3 separate regions of the Homo sapiens genome follow, and regions 1 and 2 are each linked to region 3. The links come from fine-mapping of genetic effects on gene expression. A gene starts in region 3. Each other region holds a variant in brackets. All regions are shown on one strand. Distances are between the middles of the regions. Region 1 overlaps CEP57 (centrosomal protein 57). Region 2 overlaps FAM76B (family with sequence similarity 76 member B). Region 3 holds the start of CEP57 (centrosomal protein 57).

The links.
Region 1: its variant is fine-mapped to the expression of CEP57 in whole blood (TOPMed, PIP 0.91).
Region 2: its variant is fine-mapped to the expression of CEP57 in nasal epithelium (TOPMed, PIP above 0.99).

The regions. Positions count from the first base shown.
Region 1 is chr11:95,819,175-95,827,249 of GRCh38, reverse strand. CEP57 (centrosomal protein 57) reads right to left here. Exons shown (of 11, transcript NM_014679.5): 7 at 5,272-5,379; 8 at 4,674-4,751. Among named protein-coding and RNA genes, the nearest start is that of CEP57, 33 kb to the right of the region's middle. The variant C/T (reference allele first, on the strand shown) is at 5,326.
Region 2 is chr11:95,762,115-95,770,189 of GRCh38, reverse strand. It overlaps FAM76B (family with sequence similarity 76 member B), which reads left to right. Exons shown (of 10, transcript NM_144664.5): 10 at 1-1,237. Among named protein-coding and RNA genes, the nearest start is that of FAM76B, 24 kb to the left of the region's middle. The variant G/A (reference allele first, on the strand shown) is at 3,141.
Region 3 is chr11:95,785,467-95,793,541 of GRCh38, reverse strand. CEP57 (centrosomal protein 57) reads right to left here and starts at 3,044. Exons shown (of 11, transcript NM_014679.5): 1 at 2,799-3,044. The coding sequence starts at 2,843. FAM76B (family with sequence similarity 76 member B) reads left to right here and starts at 3,760. Exons shown (of 10, transcript NM_144664.5): 1 at 3,760-4,150; 2 at 4,979-5,043; 3 at 5,864-5,918; 4 at 7,268-7,423. The coding sequence starts at 4,064. RefSeq lists enhancers at 2,136-2,799, 2,763-3,232 and a silencer at 3,733-4,152.

The DNA.
Region 1 (8,075 bases), 34 kb before region 3:
GTATCCTGGAATAATAGGAAGCACTAAATTACATGTCTATCACGTGTGTAAGAAAAACCTGATAGACTTCTCAAAGATATTTTGCTTTTGTTTTAAACACTAAACCAACAATCTCAATGTACTATTCCACTTTATAAATAGATGGCTGGGCTTACTTGGCTCCATAAATATTATTAGAAAGCATATTTAAAATGCAGGTTCCTAGGCAGCACACCAAACTCACTGCAGAGTTAGGGTTTGGAAATTTGTGTTTTCAAGTCCTCCAGTTGATTTTGATTAGCCAGATTTGGAACCACCATGCTAAGCTAAACATATGCTTTCCTTCTAATCTTAGTTTCTATTGTTAGCTAGCAAAGTGAATGCAGCAGTATTATATATCACATCCAAGTGGGAGTTTATTACATCAATGCAAGGCTGGTCCACTATTCAAAAATCAATCGATGTAACCACTATTTTGCTCGTAACTTGTAATATATATTTAGCATACTAATTGCCTATGAGTACACTTTCAATATGCAATAATTTAAAAAATTCTCGTTCTGTTATTTTTCTGATTATATTAATATGCACTTGACCCTTGAACAATGGAGGGGTTAGGGGCACCGACCACCCATGTAGTCAAAACTCTGCCATAATGAAATTTTTTTTTCCTTCAACTTTTAAGTTCTGGCGTACATGCGCAGGTTTGTTATATAGGTAAATGTGTGTCATGGTGGTTTGCTGCACAGATCAACCCATCACCTAGGTATTAACCCCAGCATCCATTAGGTACTCTTCCTGATGCTCTCCCTCCCCGTTGACCAACTCCCCCACCAAACAGGCTCCAGTGTATGTTGTTCCCCACTATGTGTCCATGGGTTCTGATCATTCAGCTCCCACTTATGTAACTGAGAACTATAATAAATTTTGCCCTAAAATGTAATAGCCTGCTGTTGACTGGAAGCATTTTTGTTTTATGTATTGTAAGCAATATTCTAAAAGTAAAGTTAGAAAAAAATATTAAGAAAATCCTAAGGAAGAGAAAGTATATTTACTATTCATTAACTGGATCACCATACAGGCCTTCATCCCCATTATCTTCACTGTTGAGTAGGCAGAAGGGTAGGGTTGGTCTTGCTGTCTCAGGAGTGGCAGAGGCAGAAGAAGTGGAGGGGGAGGCAGGAGAGGCTAGCACATTCTGTGTAACTTTACAGAAATACACTATAATTTGTCTTGACTTTTCTGCTTTTTCATTTCTCTAAAAATGTTTCTATGAGATACCAATTCTTCCACCATTTGTTTTAGTTTCAGTGATGTATCATAGAAGGGTCGATGTCGTAAAAGTCAAAAGCAGGCTGGGCGCAGTGGCTCAGCCACTGGGATTACAGTGGGATTACAGAATCCCAGCACTTTGGGAGGCTGAGGCAGGTGGATCACCTAAGGTCAGGATTTCGAGACCAGCCTGGCCAACATGGAGAAACCCTGTCTTTACTAAAAAAATACAAAAATTAGCCAGGCATGGTGGCGCGTGCCTGTTGTCCAGGTACTTGGGAGGCTGAGGTGGGAGAATTGCTTGAACCCAGGAGGCAGAGGTTGCAGTGAGCTGAGATCGTGCCACTGCACTCCAGCCTGAGTGACAGAGCGAGACTCCGTCTCAAAAAAAAAAAAAAAAAAAAAGTCAAAAGCAGTCTTGAATAATTAGAACCCTTCTGTCAGATTATCTAATGTCAACTTGTTTTCTGACATTACTTCTGTGTTGTCTTCTTCATCTTGTGGCACTGGTTTGAAAGCACTCTTATCCATCCCAGTCATCTTCTGTTAATTCCTCTATCATGGTGTCTACTGACTCTTTAATTTCTCCAAAATTCGTATCTTGAAATCCTTCACCTCCAACCTTTTTTGCCATATCTACCATCTTTTTCATGATTGGCTTTGTCATAAATCCTGTGAAATCATGCATATCACCTGGAGAGTTTTCTCCAACAGGAATTTATTATTTCAGACTTGATGGCTTTCATGACTTTTTCTATAAAAATGATGGCATCATCTTCAACTGTAATCCTTCCAGACCCTCATAATGTTCTCTCTGAAGTTCTCTTCCACAGCATTAAGAACCCTTTTTATAGTGTATGTAATGTGCCTTAGAAGTCCTTATGCTCCCTGATCCAGAGGGTGAATTAGACACACTGTGTTTAGGGACAAGTAGACTACTTCCATGCCTTTGGTGTTGAACTTCCATGCTCCTGGGTAGCTAGGGGCAATGCCTAGTATTAAAAAGACTTTAAAAGGCAGTCTCTTACTGGCAAATTACTTCCTGACTTCAGGGACAAAGGATTGATGGATCAATGTTTTTTCTAAATCCAGTTTAGAAAAAGGGTTCTCAAAGGGTCATTCTTGTTGTAAACCCAAAGACTGGCAGTTGGGTATATTTCCCCTTGAAGGCTCAGGGATTAGCAGCTTTATAGATAAGGGCAGTCCTGATTGTAAATCGGATTGTGTTTTCACAAAATAGTAGATTTAGCCCGTCTCCTCTTTCCTTAAATCCTGGTGCTGACTTGTCCTCCTTACTTATAAATATCCTTCGTGGCATCATGTTTTTCCAGAATAGGGTACTTCTGTCTGCATTAAAAGCCTGTTCAGGAAGATACCCTTTCTCCTCAATGATTTTCTTAATGGTATCTTGGGATTCATCTGCTGCCTCTTGGTCAGCAGAAGCTGCTTCTCCTATCTTGACATTTTTAAAGCCAAACCTCTAAAATTATCAAGCCATCCTTTGCTGGAATTAAATTCTCCAGCTTTAGATACCTCACCTTCCTTTTAAGTTGTCATATAATGACTTTCCTTTTTCTCAAATCATATTAGAGTCTACAAGTATGCCTTTCTTATAGCAATCCTGCATCCACATAAAAGCTGCATTTTCAATGAGATAAAAAGCTATTTTGCAAAAAGCACAAGGTTTTGGCACCTGCTAGAGTAGCTGCAGTGACAGATTCACAATTTCCTTTTTTTTTTAAAAAAAATTTTTTAAAGAGGATCTTACTCTGTTGCCTATGCTGGAGTACAGTGGTGCCATCATCGCTTACTACAGTCTCGAACTCCTGGGCTACAGTGATCCTCTTCTGTCAGCCTCCTGAGTAGCTGGGACCACAGGTGCACGCCAACATGCCGGGATCATTTTTTTTTTTTTTTTTTTTTTTACAATAGGCCTTCAGCTGGATTCATTTATTTTGAAATGGTGGACAACCGCAGCTGCAGACCTCAATCTATGGTACATATCAAGCAATGCAACTTTTTCTTGTCATGTCATGACTTTTGTCTGCTTCTTGGGAGCACTTCCACCATCATTAGTAGCACTTGATATGGGTCCCATGATATTATTCAAATTATTTACTGTATTGTGCTAAACATGATGGAAAATATGGAACTGCTAGAGAACACTTTTTACTGTGATACACAATTGACTGGAGAGATGAACTGCTCATTTGAAGATGATTAGCGTCACGTGGCATTTTAAGTGAATACTCCCAACCCTTGAGCTCATCACAATGGCAACAGAAGGTGGCTACAAAATTATCAGTCGTACAGTATGTACTACAGTTAATTTTATACAGTTATGATTTCATACTGCATCTTTATCTCTGTTTACATTTCTCTGGACTGTGAATGGCGTCACGTAGTCTGTGTGCAAATTGTTTTGATAAATTATAATTAAAAAAAACTTGTGTATATTTTATGGTAGTAAATGATAAAATGCACTAGTATTGACATAGTCAATTTTATGCATCTATGACATACCAACTTTTTCTTAACTTCTGATATTTCTAAGCTATAGTTTGCAAGTTTTTTCAAATTGCCAAAAATCTCCAAAAAATTTTCCAAGATACTTATTGAAAAAAAAAATCTGCCTGTAAGTAGACCCACACAGAGTTCGGACTCATGTTGTTCAAGGGTCAACTGTACCTTTTTCAAATGCTTGTCACCACTAATTTATTATATTCCCCATGATTTCACTGCGAATTTACTAGGGGTTTAAAATAAATAAATATAAACAAATACAAAATTCAGAAGAACATTTACTTCCCAAGATGCCAGAATAACAATCTAGTTGGAATCTAAATATAAAACCACCAGCAACACAAACAGCTTATAAAGTAGTGTCAACTAGCACAGTTTTAGGCACTTCACTCAGTACTTGATATATGACAATACAGCTTTACATTCAAGTGCTGAAGAAACTGAAGATTCAAGTGTACGTATGACTGCTTCTTGGAGAATTAGTCCTAGAAATGATCTGGATGTGAGGACAAGCAGAATGTGCTACGTGCTTATTCGAATATCTACCTATATCTAAATGTAACTCAACAGGATTGATACTAAAAATCCAATGCTACAAACATACTATTTCTTATTTCCTTGACCCCTATCTGAAACAACACCTTCTTCAACTTAGGGTCTCTGTTTTATCACTTCCTTTCCACATATACTTTATCTACTTTAAGGTATCCTCCCCATCTCTTCCTTGCTTCCCTAATCCCCAAAAACCTCCCTACATCTCATTTTCACATCACTGTGATCCACACACTGGTAAAGGCACAGAAAAATGTTCCTTCCATTTGTAGACATACTTGCAGATGCAGGGACTTAATTCAGGGATCAATGTTGTATAAAAAGAATCCGGAGTTTGACCAACTCACCTTCCCAGCTACAAATGGCATATCACCCAAGCATAATCTATAATGTGGTTGTGCACCAAAATAGTTCCTAGAACTTTTCTGAATGAAAAGAAAAGGAAAACAATTTTATTTTATTCACATGATAATAAAAACTGACTATACATGACTAACTTGAAACTTCAGTTAACTACTAGGCTACTACTTGCCTTATCTATAGTTGGCATTATGATCACAAGCCAGCTCCTAATAGTACTTGTTAGCATATATCCTAGCCTAGGAAAGGCTGGGGGGAAAAAAGCACTTGACAAAACAACAGTTACATTCTAAGTAGAAAATCAGTATACATATACACAAAACATTGTAAGAGCACAAGATAATGCAGTACTAATAATGCTAATTTTGTATGGTGTTCTGTAGTTCCAAAATGCTTATATATTTTCTCACTATCAGGATAAAAATTTAGGAGTAGGTATTACTTATCTCCACCTTCTGAATGAAGAAATTGAGAATGAAAGATTTACTCTCTCAAGGTTGTAGTACACCACACAGTTTATGGGTGTTTTGACATAAACTATACCAAGTAATCAGCATTTTGCCTGATTTGGTTCTGTCTTCACACCTTTTCTGGTGGTTTTGACTTCTTTTTTTTAATTCTTCTTGCATTGGGAACACA[C/T]GGAGTTGCCTTATCTTCAAAGATAAGTCTATTTGTTTCTAGACCAGTCTGCAACTAGGAAAAATGAGAGCCTCAAGTTAATGCTGTAGAAATAAAAGCTATGACTCAGATTTCAGATGTGTCATGTAAAAAGCCTGTAAAAACCAATGGTAGTATCTAACTGAAAAACATATTACAGCTGTATAACTATGTCTTGAACCAATCTATCAACGTTTGTCAAATATTTTAAATAAATACCAGTCTCTCATTTTATCTTGACCTTCTGTTATAATTTGTCCCTTCTTCAGCGTGGAACACATTATCTCCAGTATTTGTAGTTACTCCATAAATTCTATCTAACGAGTTAAATGCAATGTATCTAACCCCAAACCATTGCTTAAATATATTCTTTTCAAAAATGGCATCTACTACATTACCAGACACAAAACAGCCGAAGAGCAGAATACATTTCTTCCCTTTCTAAAAAGCCATGCACTTACTATATAAGAAAAAGGAATTGAAAACTTATATCCAAAAAAATAACAAAAAACAAAAAACACTGGAAGCTATCAGGCAAATGTTACCAAGCCCTTTTCTCTAGAAGCTGAGTAACTATACTAATTTAAAAATAACCTATCTTCATGGTAGAAATTCCACAAGCACTAAGAATTTCAAAAAAGGACTGCTCTTTTCACTAAGCCAACTTTCAACTTTCCTTTTTAAAAAAACAAAACAAAACAAAACAAAAAACCTGTCTGGAATAGTGTTTGTTTCAAATCTGCCTATATGTACCAAAACTGTCTGCAGTTTATGAGGACAATTTGGACTGCCAGGTGCCTGTCCAGATCTCATGATTTTGGCCTTTCCAGATTGGGGAAATTCATATTTTAAAGTATTTTAAGAGTTCCCCAGGAAATTATAATGGAGCTAGAACAAATATTCAGAACCACTGGATTCCATAAAAACAGATACTAAGATTATTACTAATACTTCCCACATGAGTGCAGCTTTGGGGTAAAAAATCTATTCCATGACAAAGGAATACAGGAATCTCTACCCTCAGGAAGCATCTATACACTCCAAACACACCTAACATTGCTTTATATATAGTAAATTGACTAGACACAATTCAATGAACAGGAAATTACTACTCTAGAAGACTTATGATGCCAATGAGTGTAAACAGTATACAAGAACTTTTTTTTGAGTATTTTAACTTCCAGTTTATTTATTCTTCCCAGCAGCTGTATATTTCTGTGCTACAGTTTTAAAACATTTTAAAGCACTTTCATTATTTTTTATTCTCATTTGATCACACCAACACCAAGATGCAAAATGCAGAACACTGTTTTTTTTTTTTTTTTTTGCTCTTGTTGCCCAGGATGGAATGCAGGTGGTGTGATCTCAACTCAGTGCAACTTCCACCTCCCAGGTTCAAGCGATTCTCCTGCCTCACCCTCCCAAGTAGCTAGGATTACAGGCATGCACCACCATACCCGGCCAATTTTGTATTTTTAGTAGACAGCGTTTCACCATGTTGGTCAGGCTCAAACTCCTGACCTCAAACTCCTGACCTCAGCAGACCACTCTTTAACAATGATAAAAATCCAGACTCTGAATAGTTATATAACTTGCCCAACACTAGACTTGGAACCACACATCTATCCCTCATTGTTCTTTCAGTACAATAATATTCACCATCAACTCAAAATATTTACTGGTAACATATTACCAGCAACATCTAATTTGGTCCCTATGTGTTGCCTGCTAAATGAAGGAGAAAATAGAAGTACCATAAATAATTTTAAAAATTCATTAAATAAGGAACTTACTAAATTTTGTATTTCATATATAATGTACTCAACACCACAATGCATATAATAAAGCACAACCCACAAGTTTGTTTGTTACAAGTATGGAAATGGAAACACAGTGAAGTGGCCAACCCTAAAGAGAAAATGGGCAAAGAAATTTTGTTGGTCAAAAATTAAGCCATGTGGCTATATAACTCAGAAAGCACACTGAGGGAAAACAACAACAAATCTACAAATTGATCAGAAGGTAAATATTTGAGAAGGAACTGTATCAGATTTAATACAAAATAAGTCAATAAATTTAGAGATGCACTAGAAGAAATAGACAACATAACAAAGATAACTTTTATATTCCTGTAATCACATATATGAAGTGAGCCCAAGACATTGTAGGCCTTTGGTCACAGATTGAACTGCAGAGGCTCTACTCCTTGGAATCGAGACCTGATTCTTGTGTTCTTACGAAAAAAGATACATGCAAATATCATAAAAATAAAAGACCCTGGAAGGGGCAGGGGAGTATCTGGGAGGAATTTGAGCAAATACGCTCATAACGAGAGTGTCTTCAGTTAAAAACATGAAAATTTTATTTTACTGAGTCTGTAAGTCAGACTTACTTCAGTAGTCTTGCTATATATCTCCTAGAAATGCAGTTCTGGTTGGTACATATAAACTCAATGCTTTTGTGAATCCACACTGCCTCACCTATTCTATCTGGTGGCCACTGCATGGGATAAAATCCAAAAGTAGGAGAGAGTAGAGCTCATTTTCCTCATGTGGTGGCTTCTGTTAACTGGTCTGGGTCAATAGCTATTGGGGCATCCCACTACCTCAACTTCTATCCTGGCATCTTGAGGCCACCAAAGAGAAGTACCTATAAGTACAATACTGAAAGATAGCTTTTAAATATTACTGATAATGGCCGTAAGAAGTTTTACATGATTACATACCTTCTTA
Region 2 (8,075 bases), 23 kb after region 3:
TTTATCTCCTAGTTATTATCAGTTCAGAGTTTTAGTTTGATTTTAAAGTATTGCTAGATACACTGTATAGAGTGAGTTGCTTCTCTTAATAATTTATGGGCAAAGATAAATTTGCTTCATGTAAAACTGTTACTAAATTTATAAGTTTTAAAGGTTTTGTTTTATACAAGCATTGATTGTGAATGTCATATCAAAGATTGGCTTTCTTAAGAACACATGATTGAAACAATTTTTTTTTAACATGACGTGTTTCAATAGACTGTTCTCATAGTTCATTATAAAGTGAATACCAAATAATTCTTTGTCCATTTTGAAAGCATAATATAGGGTAATTTTCAAGTGATACAAAAAGATTCAGTTAGAATCTTGTAAACTAAACCAGTTTATTTTTATGGGATCTTCATGTAATAATTTTCTTAAATTTAGTACTCTCAACCATGATAGATAATGCCTTAACATGGATTTTAACGTTTGCAGGATTTGCTAAATTCATAAGATAGTTATTACCTTTCTTTGAAATTTGTAATGTTTTATATTCTTGTTTCATAGCCATTTGTCAGTCCACAGTGGTCATTATGGTTTTACTTTTTGATAGTTCTTACACCTTGTTGGAGAAACTACAAAAGAAAGTTGTCCTCGTCCTTCCCCTTAGCTAACATCAAAATTAAAAAGTTGAATATTAATATTAGCTAACATTAAAATGGAAGGTAATTCAGTTTTAGTGTTAGCTAACATTAACAGTCTAATAATTTAGCTTTGTAAATTCCAAGGCTAAAACCCTTTCATGGGCTTCACAGTATTTAGTCCTAATTAAATACCCTTCTTTATTCCATGACCTTATTTTATAACTTAAATTTTTTTGCAATTGTATAAATTAGTAATTCAGTCCCAGTCCTGGATCTCTGTAGTGTTTTGACATAATAAACTGATATTCTTTAAATGTGGACCTGTAAGGAGATACTATGGTGTGGTGTATTGTGCTTTTAGCCTGTTTTCCACTATTAATTAGCATTTACCAGTAAGGGTCATTTTGACTCAAGTTATTTATGTATTAATAGCCTGTGAATATTGCAGTCCTTTTTAGATTATATTGGTCTAAATATGCATTCTGCAGTGAACCTGTTAAGCTGTTCACATGTATAGACTATTGAAATACTGTACTTGTACACATCTGACTGTTGACATTTTGTACTTTTTTCTAGATCCAATATTTCACAATAAAAAACTTGTCAAAGGCTTTGTATTAGTTTTCAATGGCTGCTGTAACAAACTCCCACACACTTAGTGTCTTAATACAACAAAAATTAATTCTTTTATGGTTCTGGAGGCCAGAAGTCCAAAATCAGGTTTACTGGTCTAAAGTCAAGGTATTGGCAGGATTGCTTCTTTCTGGAGGCTGTAGGGGAAAATCTGTTTTCTTGCCTTTTCCAGCTTCTAGAGCTGCATTCCTTGCATGCTATGAGCTCATTGACCTTTATCTTCAAAGCCCAAATTGTAGCATCTCAAATCTCTCTCTGCTGCTGTCATCATACCTTCTCAGAGTGTCTCCCTCTGTTCCCTCTCATAAGGACCTTATGAGAACATTATTGGCTCCACCTGCACAAACAACGTAGTTTTTCCATCTCGAGTTCTTAACCTAGTCACATCTGCAAAGTCCCTATTGTCATATAAGGTAATGTATTCACTGGTTCCAAGGGTTCGGGCATGGACATATTGGGGGACCATTATTGAGCCTACATAGCTTCATCTACATTTTACCCCCTTTTTCCAGTATGAAACCCTGAAACAACAGATACATGAGAGAAGTTTAGGCCAAACATTAGAAACTATTTTCCTGTCTGTCCATTCAGACCACTTTAGTGCAATAGTTATTTTTCCTGGAAGAAATAAATTTGCATCTAATTGAGCAAGTATTTCAAGCTATAGTTAAGTTTTTGAAAGCTTTGGAACATGACTAGTACCATGCTAGATTGTTTGATAAGTTAAAAGTTGAAGGTGTGATTCTTTCATTTGTAGACTAGGTGGGCAGATACTGTGCTTGGGAAAAAATCTGGAACCTAACTTTGGTATTATAAAGTGTAGTAAAAGCTAACAGCTTTTAGCAAGGGCATTTCAAGACTTCAGGTGTAGTCCCTTGTTTCTCAAACGTTAGTATACATCAGAGTTACCTGGAGGGCATGATAAACACATGTTGCTGGACCTTATCCCCAGTTTTCTGATTCAGTGGGTCTGGGATGGAGCCTAAGAATTTTCAGTTCTCAGTTCTCAGGTAATGCTGCTTCTGGCCCAGAGCTCACATTTTGAGAACTATCATTTTAATATTCCCTGCATTTCCCATACAAACTATACCATTGGGTAGGTAAGTAGTAGATGGGGGGTAGTTTCTCTTTAAAACATTCTAATGAAAAAGGAAGGATGGAATTGCAACATCACTATTTTGCAACCTCTCATGGAGTTAAGGATTGGTCATCAGCAGCTACTGACAATACACAAACACATTCTTAAGTGCTTTCTGATGGAGGAATACACTGCTACCTATAAAGTTTTGCCAAAAAGAATCAAACCTAAATCTGACGAAGCATCTACCAATTAACCAAAAATAGAAAGGATGGAAGATCATGTTGAGTGACACCAAAAGGATACAGTTGGCACAGTTGTTCAATAAGTTGCAAGCAGAGGGAATCAGTGGAGGGAGAACCTATAGTATAAAAGGTACTTAATATAAACCAGTCACAATATGTGACCCTGATATGGATCTGGAATCAAGAAATTAAAAATTTTTAACATGTATGAGAACTGAAAATTTGAACACTGGTTATGTAATGATTTTAAGGAATTAAGTACTGTTAACTTTTCAGATGTGATGATGGTGTTGCAGCTATCTTTTTAGAGTCCTAGAGACACCTACTAAAATATTTATAATGAAATGGTATGATGATTGGTATTTGCTTCAAAATAGTATAGGGAGGGAGATACGAGAATATAAATGAAACAGGATTGGGTGTGAGTTGTTAATTTTTGAAACTGGGTGATAGTTATATGGTGGTTTATTATACTATATTCAACTTTTGTGTAAATTTTTTCTTAATAACAAGTAACACTACCACCATCACCCCTGCCTGCCAAGTTACGCTCAATTT[G/A]AACAATACATGCTTATTGAAAAAAAAAATGCACAGCACAAAAATCAGGAGAAAAAAGAAAAAACCACTCACAGTTCTCCCAGGTGACATATTTGTTTCTGTTTTATATGTTTTCTTGCAGCATTGTGAGTAATGGCTATGATCATGCCACAATGTAATTCTGGTTCCTGTTTCCATTCTTCCTTTCTCCCCCTACTTAACAAAAACAATTTCCACACTAAAACAACAACAGCGATTATTTGTTGTCATTTCATAGCTGTGCATGTGAGGCATTTAAGACCACTATTAAATATTTAAGACGACTTTTTAGTGTAATGTCAGGTTTCAAATCCCACTTTGCCATTTGCTAGCTAGGTGTCTTGGAGGTGTACTTAATATCTCTGAGTTTCAGTTTCCTCATCTGTGTAATTACAGAGTTATTAATGAACATTAAGGTAAAGTATTGATACACAAAGCACTTTACATAATATAATAATAGATTTATAATATGACTTTTAATCAATTAAAAATAATACATAAGGTAATATAAAGGCTAACTACCTTTTCAACTTTGGAGCATGTCCCTTGATGCAGTCGATGAAAATTCTATTAGGGTTGATTAATGGCATCATAGTTTTCAGCCATGGAAACTTTTTTTTTTAAATAAAATCTTATCAAGAGTCCCAATATATAAAACAAAAGCTGATACACTGGTTGACGTCGAGGCAAGGATTGGTATCCCTTTCATAGTAGGATCAAACATGGCAGATGCTGGTACTGTGTCCTTGATCCTTGATGCGACATAATTTAAATGTCACAGTTATTTGAATTATATCTGAGTTTTTGCTAATTTTTAATTGAGAATCTCAATGAGTGATATCTTACTGTATAGACATTTTCATTTCAGGGAGGTGAATTTCCTGTTAAATTTAATTATCAGTTGAACATGTGTTATGTGCTGCTATGCACCAGTCACTATGCTAATTACTACAAAGATGCAAAGATAAATCTTATTCCCAGGAGCTCATAATCTAGAAGAGACAGCTAGGTAAATAAATCATTGCAGAAAGTATAATAAAGTATAGATATTCACAAATGTTTACATTAGGGAGGGACTTACTAAGATGAAACCATTTTGTGTAAAGAGAAAAAATGTCCAAAGGTTCATGACTTCTAGAACATCACATTTGCCTGTTTTTTTTGTTTGTTTGTTTTGTTTCGTTTTTTAACCCCTTACCTTTCGTGATGCTTTTCAGTTTCTTTTGTTGGTTCCTTCTCTTATCCCTTACATGGAATGGTTGGAGTTGCTCAGGGCTCTTTTTTTGCTTTCTTGGTAAACTCATTAATATTACCTATAAGCCTAATGACTCCCAAACTTACAGTAACGGCCTAGACCTCTCCCCCTAATTTCCAGAATTTCTATTCAATGAAACTTGGTATCTCCATCTGGGTGTCTTACAAAGGCTCTCAAGTTTTACACGTCCAAAATGATGTACTCTTTATCTGCACTCCCCAGTCCAAACAACTACCAAGGCAGCCACTCTGCTATCTTCCCATCTCTGATAATGGCAACTCAATTTTAGTTGTTACAGGCCAAAATCCTTGATGATATTGTTGACTCTTTTTCTCCCACTTCATGGCTGTTCTTTGAAAAGTTCTGCAAGCTCTAACTTCAAGTTTGACCTTTTTTTTTTTTTTTTTTTTTTTGTCATCTCCAATCCTAACTGGTATCTCTGTTGTCTGCAGTCTGTTCTCAACAAAGAGTGATCCTATTAAAAGATGTCATGTCATGTTATCCCTCTATTCCAGTGGTTCTCAACTGAGGGTGATTTTGCTCCCCTGGGGATATTTGGCAATGTCCGGAGACATTTTTGATTATCACACTGGTGGGGTTGGGGAGAGGTTGCTACTAGCATCAAGTGAGTGGATGCCAGGGATGCTGCCAAATATTCGACAATGCACGAAACAGCCCTATGCAATAAAGAATTTGTTAACTGAAAATGTCAGTAGTCTCAGCCGAGGGTTGAGAACCCCTGCTTAGTTCATTGGCACTGCTATAACATAACACCTTAGATTCGGTAGCTTATGAACATTAGAAATTTATATCTCATGGTTGCAGAGGCTGGGAAGTCCAAGATCAAGGAATTGGTAGATTCTGTGTGTGATAAGGACCCATGCTCATAAACAACCTTCTTGCTGTGTCTTTACACGGTGGAAAGGGCAAGGCAGCTCTCTGGGGCCTCTTTTTTAAGGGCACTAATCCCATTCATTGGATCAGATTTCTCATGACATAATCATCTCCAAAAGGCCTCACTTTCTAATACCATCACCTTGGTGATTAAAATAAAACATATAAATTTGGGAGGGAATGCAAACATTCAGACCATACCAGCTGCTCTACTCAAAACTCTAAAATAGTTTTACATCTCAGCTCTTATAATGGCCTAAAAGCCCTGTAAGAAAAGTCTTTATACCACACTACAGCTATTCTCCACCTCTTTTCTTTAATTCTGTAAATATTAAGAGGAAATAAAATGTATTTAAAAGTGTTAACCCTTTTTCTTAAAATTCCTACCTATTTCCACTAGGGGGAGGGCTTCACTACTAAATAATACAGTATTTTCACTTGCCACGTTGTTACAGGAGTCACTGTAATCAGAGCAAGCATCCTCATACTCTTTGTAACAATGTTTCATTATGTACGGTAACCCATTTTCAGATGCAATTTATTTTTCACAATTCCAGTGTACATTTTTTTTTCCATTCGATAAAAGTGAGTTTTAAAATATAATTTTGTCTTTGAATGGATTGTTTTTGAATTTGCAAATACTATTTTAAGGAGTTGCTTTAAAGATTTCCATACTGGATTTTTTTGTGCACATTTCTTTCCCTCTAAATCCAGTCCTACTGATGCACTAGGTGCAACATTTATTTGGTCCCTCCTTCATCTATCTGTGAGGAAGTTCCTGCACCCAGTATACCCAGGGGTAACATAATAGGTTAAGAAATCATCAATTCTAAATCAGAAGCCTACTATCTCCAACTAAGCCATTGTCTCCTAGAGAGACATGACATGGGCACTGCATTATTGAGCTTTTCATTGTCAATGCACCCCTGGAAGCCTGGAATTCTACAGTACACAACCTGTGCAGCCATGAAACCAAGGCTGAGGCTTGGATTACCCCCTGGGCTAGAAATAGGCTTTGAATCAAGCCATCGCATGTATTAAATGCCTCCTAAATGATCGTTCTTTGTAGATGTTGCTCATTTTTGCACATTCTATGTGACATGAATTTTTCTTCAAGAGGATTATTAGGCCTCCCCTATTATTCATGGAACAATGTCTACTGGGACATCAAGGGTTCATAAGGGCTGGACCATTCACCTTCTGTTGTGACCCCCTCTTTTATCAATGCAGCTAGAAAAACTGTACAGTTTAGAAAATACCTGAAAAGTGATGACTGAAACTGAAAACGATGAGGTGGAACAGCAGTGAGAAGGTAACCTGAGAAACCTGGAAAGTAGCTGAAAGGAAGGTGGGGCACTGGGAAAAGTGGAGTTCATACAAAAACCAAACACCAGCCGGGTGTGGTGGCTCACGCCTGTAATCCTAGCACTTTGGCAGGCTGAGGCGGGTGGATCACCTGAAGTCAGGAGTTTGAGACCAGCGTGACCAACATGGAGAAACTCCATCTCTACTAAAAATACAAAATTAGCTGGACATGGTGGCACATGCTGGTAATCCCAGCTACTCGGGAGGCTGAGGCAGGAGAATCGCTTGAACCCTGGAGGCGGAGGTTTCAGTGAGCCGAGACCGCACCATTGCATTCCAGCCTGGGCAACAAGAGTGAAACTCCGTCTCAAAAAATAAAAATAAAAGAAATAAAACCAAACACCAAGCCAGCATAATTACTGCATCCAACTTTTGTTTATATTAAAATGACTTTTAATACAAGTGTGACTTAGTCTGGGGTCATGGCATAACCATTCTGTAGCTAGGTGCTTTTATAGTCAAACTAACAGTCAAAACTCATAACCAGTAAATATATATATAATATGTGTTTGTGTGTATATATATGCTAAATGAAGTCTGCATTCTTATTTTCAAATTGTCTTAAGTTCTTTTTGCAATATACATTTTATTCAAATGGAAGGTTTAAAAATGGCTGCAGGAATTTAGAGAATTTTAGAAATCATTTCCAAGTGCCTCTCAAATGGAATGAAATGTATTTAATATGGTGTTTTCCTTACATCACCTTCTGATTTCCTTCAGCATAGCAACTCTGAGCAATCAGAAGCCGCAATGCAGGCCTCTGATGTCATCAGCTGCCTGCTCCTATGGTTACCAAGATGGGCCCACAATTTCTGATCATCTATGTCAATGAAGTGGCCTGTTTCCTAGACTATAAGTATGTGAGTAGTTTTATAGAGTGGAGGGATAAAAGGGCATTTGTCCGTATTTAATTTTTCCTTTGAGTAAAGAAGTAGGAGGATTTTGTAATATGACTTATTTTTAAAACAAAATGCACGTTTTCTGTTACCTCAATAGCTAGGCTTTCCATATACTTATCTCAAAGTACTAGAGTAAGAAAAGCTTTAGGAGCATTTGAAAAGGAGTGAAAAACAAACATTTTATTTGGAAATAGGGCTGTGAATTCAGCTTGGGCATACAGATCACTTATCATAGGATATGAGATTAAAATTCATGATTGAGACAGCAAGGTACCAATAGATACCAAGGTGAGGTGAGCCACACTCAGAAACTTGCAAAACGGAGGTAGCTGAAAACTCAGGACACAATTCTTATTCCCTCACCAGAACTGAGGGGCTAAAGAGGTTGAGAGTGGTACCCAGGAAAAGATTTGGAGAGAGATGAGATGTAAGCCCTTCCTGTCTATCCAAGGAGGTAGGTTTGGGGTGTTTTCCCCACCAGAAGTAAAGATTTTCAATGAATTC
Region 3 (8,075 bases):
AAGGTATTCATTTTATTATTCTCAAAAAGTAAATCTTATATTTAATATTATAAAATGTATGATAGCCATAAAACATTTTTAAGGGAAATTAATATGGAGCTACTGTGCAGCTTGGTCGAAGGACCAAAAGTCAGAGGGACAAATCAAGAGATTAGGTCATTAATCACCAAGGTTATTGTGAAAATATTACAAGGCTGACATGAAAGACATTCTTGTGTATTTCAACACAATGCTGCCCATACCTCCATATGGAATTAATTTCATTATGCCCAATCATAGTTGCTTTCCTGCCTTTTCCACCAGTCGAAGTTTATCAATTCCAGAGCAATCACTCAATAAACGTTACCTAGAACCTAACTGAAACCTATCGCCCTACTTCCATGCTGTTCACATTTGAGATTTACATGGTCACTGCTTCCCAAAGACGGTTATTTATGAATCTACTTGTTAAAAATCTTTGCCTGTAAAGCATCTCAATGTACTTATAACTAGCTCCGTATGAGTTTATCAATGTCGAAAACAGTTGAATATAACAGTTGTTAATCTTCATAACCGTGAAATCTGAATACGAGTTGTGTTCTCAGTTCATGGTATAGTTTTAACAAGTTTTTTTTTTTTTAAATGTTGCCTACTGTTAAGATCAGCTGTTTGATAAGCTAAGTGCTTTTCCAACGCTGTTGGAAATGGCAGCCTTATTTCTGATGGGACATCTAAGCAGGACGTTTTCTTACGCACCAAGAAACCAACTAAATTTAGTCATTTTTGTTTTGAGAAACAGTAACTTCCAAAATAGACATTTTGATGTAGCAGATTGAGTTATGGTTGTTATACTTTGATTTGTGGAGGTTCCTAGATATTCTTAGTGTACCCTTGATATTTAGAATCCTATTAAAGCTGAGCTTAGCACAAAAAAAATATGCTTTCCTAATGAACAGTCTTTGGTATTTCTGTCAAGGGTACCGTATAAGTATTAACAGCTGACTATATCCCAGTGCCAATGCTCACCTAGGTGTCCTTGGCATAGTGCAGCTCAATTAAACGTTTATTTAATATTTTATTTTATGGAGACAGGGTCGCTCTGTCGCCCAGGCTGGAGAGCAGTGGCACTATCATACCTCACTTCAGCCTCAGTGATCCTCCCGCCTCAGCCTCACTAGTAGCTGGTATTACAGGCATGAGCCACGCACCCAGACTCAATTCAACATTTGTAAGAGTATTCCTTGTTCGGTCTCCAAGTGCTTAACTTTTGAGAGCCGTGAAAAGCCCTCTTCTCCCAAGTTTAATCACATCTCCTATAAAATCTCATCCATCTGCTGACACTTCCAATAGTTTTTTACTTTTTTCTTTTACTGACCTAATCCTGAATAACCTTAAATTGCTGCTTTCCTTACTTCTCCTTAACTTCCCCAGACCTCTCTGCAAACTTCTAATTCCCATTCGGCTGAAACACTGTAATACTTCTAGTCCCATTATTACAAATTCTAACAAGTCTCCAAAAGCTGAAACTGACTTCTCCAAGGTGACCAGGCTTTCTTAGCGTTTCCAACTCTTTCCCCCTAGATCCTAGAAAATAACTTTACCCTGATACTCTTCTAGTTCCTTCCCTCACCATCCTTCTTTTTTCACGTTTTTACCTACGTTTCCAATTCACCTCATCCAGCTCTACCTCCGTATTACTTCTTCTCATTCCGAACTATCTCAAGTTTCCTAAAAGCACCTACTGTTCTAGCACATACTCCAAAATTCCCGCACTGCCTTTTTCTCCTTTCTCTACTCTTGGGACAAGCAATCACAATTCCTTCGACACGCAACTAGCTCCATCTTCCCTTCTAGGAAACCTTCTCTAGCCTACCCAAGCACTGTTAATCACTCCCCTCTAGATTATTCTACTACGGTAGCACTTCCTAAACTATACTGCGCAGTAATCACTAATTACGTGTAGTTTCTCTTCAGTGTTTTTCTCCTTCAAAGCAGGGTTTCTATTCTGTTCATTTGGACCCTAACAGTATACCAGGCATCGAACATTTGCTAACTGGAGAAATAAGAGCTCCAACATTTACTTCCTATCAAAGCTTTCCAATGCCGCGGTTTTCAAAAACCTAAGCATTCGACACTCCAATTTGAGAAATACCAGTGAATACCAGTAACTAAACTGGATGGTGACATTTGATGAGGCGAAAACAATATTTAAAATCAATTCCCCCTGTCGCCTCTCCAAAAGGGCATTTCCACATTGAAGTTCCAGTAATTCTAGGTGACAGGAAGCGCGCGTTCTGGCTACGAGCATCACACAACGAAGTTAATGTGGATGGGAGTGGGAGGCACTGCAGGGATAGGAAACAGCATAAGCAACGACTAGTAAGCGCTCGAGAGACGGCGGACTACTATTCTGCAACGTCTCTTAAACACACTGGCGCGCCTCACCTGATCTGGCGAGTTTCCTAGAGGGGCCGCTGAACCCACGTGACCAAAAGAGCTACATTTTTGCAGGCCAGGGAGTGGGCAGTTATCCCAGCCGGCCCTTGGGAATGTTAGGCAACCGGGGTTGGTTGCTACGCCAAAAGGTGAATAAGGGCTGGGGAACAGGGGCGGCCAGCCCAGTTTCACTGGGAGCCAGAGGGTGCAGCTTCGACACAGCCACAGTGAATGGAAGCTTGGGGAGCGCGGGGCAATCTAGGCATTCCCGCCGACCTCCAGAATTGCGTCAGAAGCTGGACTGACAGCGCCCTGAAACGTGAGGAAACTCAAAGAGGCGCTTAGGGCCGACGTGGGGCCCACTCGCGCCAACTGCTTCTTACCGACAAGTGAGAACCAGAAGCCGCAGAGACAGACGCCGCCGCCATCTTTCAGCCTGCCCAGGGGGTCTCCGCACTTCGGGGGCGGTCTAGGTTCTCGTGCTCTTCTCCAAGACTCGGGAGCCGCCCACCAGCGGGGACCCTAGGCTGAACCCCTGATGGAAAAGGGCAAGGGTGCTGGTGCTGGGCTTGGAAACCCCTGCAACACACCCCCTCAGGGCCGCCTACGCTCACAGCTTACACAGAAAGGGCAACACGTCCTAACGGACGTCTTTCCTAGCCAATCAAAACAGCAGACGTCTTTCTGTAGTAGGAGAGAATCCGCCTCTTCCCTGGTGACGTCACAAGGTAGCGCGTAACGGGGCCCGCTGGGGCAGACAACGCCGGGGTTACAGGCCGGCTCTGCGGGGATTCTACGGAGGGTCGGGCCTCCTCCAGTAAGAAGCGTGGGCGAGTAGTGGTGTCGCCAGTGGCAACTGAAGGGAGTAATGGAGATAAAACAAAAGCGAAGGCGAAGTTAAAGCACTCCACGAGTTCCCTCGGATTAAACGCCGGAGAGAGCGTGAATTTGCCTCGGGGACGCCTCTCCAGGTGAAGTATTTACCTTTTGGCCAATAACAAATAGGATTAGGAGGGACTTAACGATTTAGTCCAATAGAAAGCAAGGGAAAAAAAGTTGCGGCAGAGAACGAGCCTTTCGCGAACATTTGCTCAATTGGATTGGGGCGCTCTCAGCCAAACCTGGGACTGGCTGTTAGAAATAGCCGCGACCGCAGACCTTTGGGCGGGGCAGGTTCAAAGCGGATTTCGCGCGCTGAGAGCTCCGGGATGTCATTGGCCGGCGACATCCTCCCTTTGTGGGCGCTTCCTGCGTCGCGGAAGTTGGGAGTTGGGAGGAGCCATCGAATGACGCGATAGCCTTCGCAGCCAATCAGGGATGGGAAAGGGAGGCCGAGAAGGAAGCGGATCCACGGCCGCACAGCTAAACAGCAACCCCCTACCCGCTTCGTCTCCCTCCGCCGCTATCGGGGCCTAAGCGGGAGCGGCTGGCACGGCGTCACTGGGTGGGCTGGGGCGGAAGTGGAGGCGGAGGGAGACGGTGGCGTCGTCCGCGGGGCCCTGGGCTCTCGCGGCGAGGCCCTGGTGGGCGCGAGGCAGGGGGAGGGGGAGGAGGAGGAGCCCGCGGCCCGGGCGGCGGCGGCTCTCGGGTTCTCCGTAGGGCCCCGCCTCGGAGCGGGCGGCGGCGGAGGAGGAGACTGAGGAGCAGGATGGCGGCCTCGGCCCTGTACGCCTGCACCAAGTGTACCCAGCGTTATCCTTTCGAGGAGCTCTCCCAGGGCCAGCAGCTCTGCAAGGTCCGTGGGCTCCGGGAGGCGGGCGGGATGGGTGTCCTCGGCCGTAGCCGGAGGGGGCCGGGTAGCCGCTGCACTGCAGCCCCTCTTCGCCGGCGCCTCAGGGGTTTGGGAGTCTGGAGCCCTCGCCTCCCCACTCGGGGACCCCTTTTTCTGGGGGCTTGAACATTAGCTGGGAACGGACCCTGAAAGGGAGGCAGAATCGTGCCCTTTTCCAGGCGGCCCAGGAGGGTGCCGGGCCCCGTCAGCGTCTGGGGGTCTCAGGAGTGGGGTTGAGTGAGGCAGCCACCTGTCTATGCCGCAGAGACCCAGGGGTGGAGATGTTTTCATCTCGGTTTTCTGCCTGGTCTGTCCTCTTCTTCCACCAGGAGGCAGGGGACGGTTTTTGCACTTTCTTGCTAGGAACCCGAAGCCGCAAAGCTGATGGCATCCTTCTTCCCTGTCCAGGAAAGCGAAGCGACTGGTTTGGGAACAGAATGCTCTGATTTGGAGCTCCTCCCATCCCATTAAAGCCTGGATGCTGTCTGTGAGCAACGGTGCAAAATAATAAGTAGTTTCACATTTAACCAATCCTTGAAATAGGCCCTGACAGCTTTCTTAATTTGTCTGTAATATACCCCCACGTCTACTAAAGACAAAGACACCTGTGCCTTCCCTAAGGAATTATATTGTGATTGGCCACTTATATGATAAAGCATCCAGTTCTTTACGTTGGGGCCAGGTTTTATAAATGTTTTAGACTTTCACTAGGTTGGGTAAACAGTTTTCTACCAGAAAAGTGAGATTTGGGACTTTCAGAAAGATACTGACTAATGTATTGTCTTATTACAGGAATGTCGGATTGCACATCCTATTGTAAAATGTACTTACTGCAGATCAGAATTTCAACAAGAGAGGTTTGTATACTGAATAGTTTTTGACTGTTAAAGACAAGTGTTGTCTTTATGGAATACTTGGGGGTTGTAATCCCATGTTTTTATGAAAGTATTTTTAAAAAATGGTTTAGCCCCAGAAATTTTAAGTTGTAAACCTTTTATACATGGTGGGAGAGAGAATGTTGCGAAAAAAACCAGTGGTGGTTAATTTACAGTTAGACTTTATATGAGAGAAGGAATAATACTACATGGAAAATGTACAGCCTTGCTAATGAAAATGCAAATGTAAACAGTTATGTTAAACTAAAAAAAAATGGTAAAGCCTTAATGGATCTGAGGAAAGGTCTGTAGTGTTACCAACTGCCTTCCAAGGTGAAAATCTAATAATTTGTTACATAGAAGAGGAGTAGTACGTAACATTTTTAACAGTTCCACTCTGAGAGTATATACAGAAAGTAGCCTCAGAAAAGAACAAATAATTTCTTCATAAATAGGTGTGGGCATTATAATGTTGGACAGTAGCCAAGTGGAAGGTTAGGTAGGCACTGGTATTGTAATGCTGTGCAGTAATAGTGTCAAGTGTGAAGATTTTGGAGCTATATAGGAAACATTAAGATGTTTTGTTTACAAAAAGTAATATGCAATAAAAATGTATAAAAACATTTGTCATAAGTTAATTTGGGTAAAACAACTCTGAAAATATCCTTGTATATTTGAAAAAAATCCGTGGTCCTTATTAAAGTTTTAAGTACAACAAATCTTTGACTCATTTTATTTTGACATTGTGCTAATTACTTTAGAAAGCTACATAAACATGATCTATATACAATTTATTTTTCAGCAAAACTAACACAATTTGTAAGAAGTGTGCTCAAAATGTGAAGCAATTTGGGACGGTAAGTATGTCTTATGTTTTCATGTCATTGTTACCAGTTAATATTTTTCATAAAGCTGGACCTTTTAAAAAAATATGTACTGCTGGCTGGGCACAGTGGCTCACGCCTGTAATCCCAGCACTTTGGGAGGCCGAGGAGGGCGGATCACAAGGTCAGGAGATGGAGACCATCCTGGCTAACACGGTGAAACCCCATGTCTACTAAAAATACAACAAAAAAAAAATGAGCCGGGTATGGTGGTGGGCGCCTGTAGTCCCAGCTACTCCAGAGGCTGAGGCAGGAGAATGGCGTGAACTCAGGAGGCGGAGTTTGCAGTGAGCTGAGATCCTGCCACTGCACTCCAGCCTGGGGGACAGAGCGAGACTGCGTCTCGAAAAAAAAAAACTACTGCTATGCTCTTAGATATTTCAACATACCATATTTTATGAAAGACATTTTCTATAGATACTTTGATGGAAAGGTGATAACATTTAAAAACAGTCAAATTATATACCTGTTTTACATGTATTGAATCCAGTGTGAAATTTGTGAAGCTGTTCTTTAGAGATTCAAATATAGCAAATTCTTGGTTATGGAGAACTTATCCATAAAGTTTGCATCATCAGACTTTAGCCCACTTCAGAACAGCCTCCTCAGAACTATTTTTATAAAACAGCGCAATTAAAGATATTTATTCACAGAAGTCATGACCCAATCCTAGTACAAATTGTCTTATATGTATACTACAATCATTATAGGTATATTATACCAATATTATTTATTATTGGTCAAAAATGCTAACTTTAACGCTCTAAACTGCCCTGAATCATCTTTTGAATATCAAAGAAAATCAAGGTATGTTTTTATAGTTTATGTTGAATATGCTTGTTCTCATTTTTTCAAAGTTGAAAACTCACAGTATATATTCCTTATATGATTTGTACCTATATGTGATGAAAAGTTAACATTTTCTAAATAAATGATATGGTCATTAAGGTAACTAGGATATTAGTAGAAGGACGTTTCCTCAAATTCTTGATTCATGAGACTTCTCTACATATGTACCTTTATTTTCGTTCTTTAAAACCTTTTTTATGTGTAGTTTTTGTATTATCTAACAGACTATGCAAATCACAAATCTATTTCTCACGATCTTAGAGTAATAGTTACATGACTAGAAATAAATACTAGTTGAATGCATAGAAATATGGTATAAAAGTTATTGCATGTGACAGGGCAACAAACTTGACAGAAAACAAATTTTTTACCTGAGTTTTCTTAATTCCAGAAATATGTCTACAACACTGGGTATATGCTATGCCGCAAATATTTAATGTTTTTAAAAGTCTCAAAATGTGTATGTTTTTCAGCCCAAGCCTTGTCAGTACTGTAACATAATTGCAGCATTTATTGGTACCAAGTGTCAGCGTTGCACAAATTCAGAAAAAAAGTATGGACCACCTCAGACCTGTGAACAGTGCAAACAGCAATGTGCTTTTGATCGGAAGGAGGAAGGAAGAAGAAAGGTATGCTTTATTTATGTTATGACATCTTCTGGAAATTAAATAAAATGCCAAACAAGTTGGAAATTATAATTAATACACTACTGAGACTGGATCTATTCTTTAGGTCCATGAAAGCAAGTAGTTAGATGAAAGTGCAGGAATAGTGAGTTTTCTCTTTGTTTGCATGATACATAGATTCATGTACTATACTTTAAAAAATATTCTATGGTGGCTATTCTGTACTAGTTGGCTATCCCACATTTGGTTCAGGAGATTTAACTAATTGCTTAAATATCTCCTTTTACTTTACCCTTTTGCTAGTTACTTGACATCACTGGTGTGAAAAAAATACCTGATGGCACATTGGCACATAAAATTCAGTTACTCTTGTGCCTTTTGATAAAGGCTCATATTTGAAACTGTTGTTTGTTTTTGTCTACCTGCAGTGACTTAATGTAATAAGTATTTGTGTTCATGTGATAATTCCTTTGCCGATCAGCATTCACACAGGCCTCCTGTTGCCTATCAATTTTAGTTGATTTGGAGAATGACTACCTCTTTGAGGGGCTTCCTCAGGTCTCCCCACAGCAATGTACATATCCCATTATAAGACATGTCCCTCCAGCATGTCTGGTACATAAACATCATGGAATACTATGGATGGAATACATGT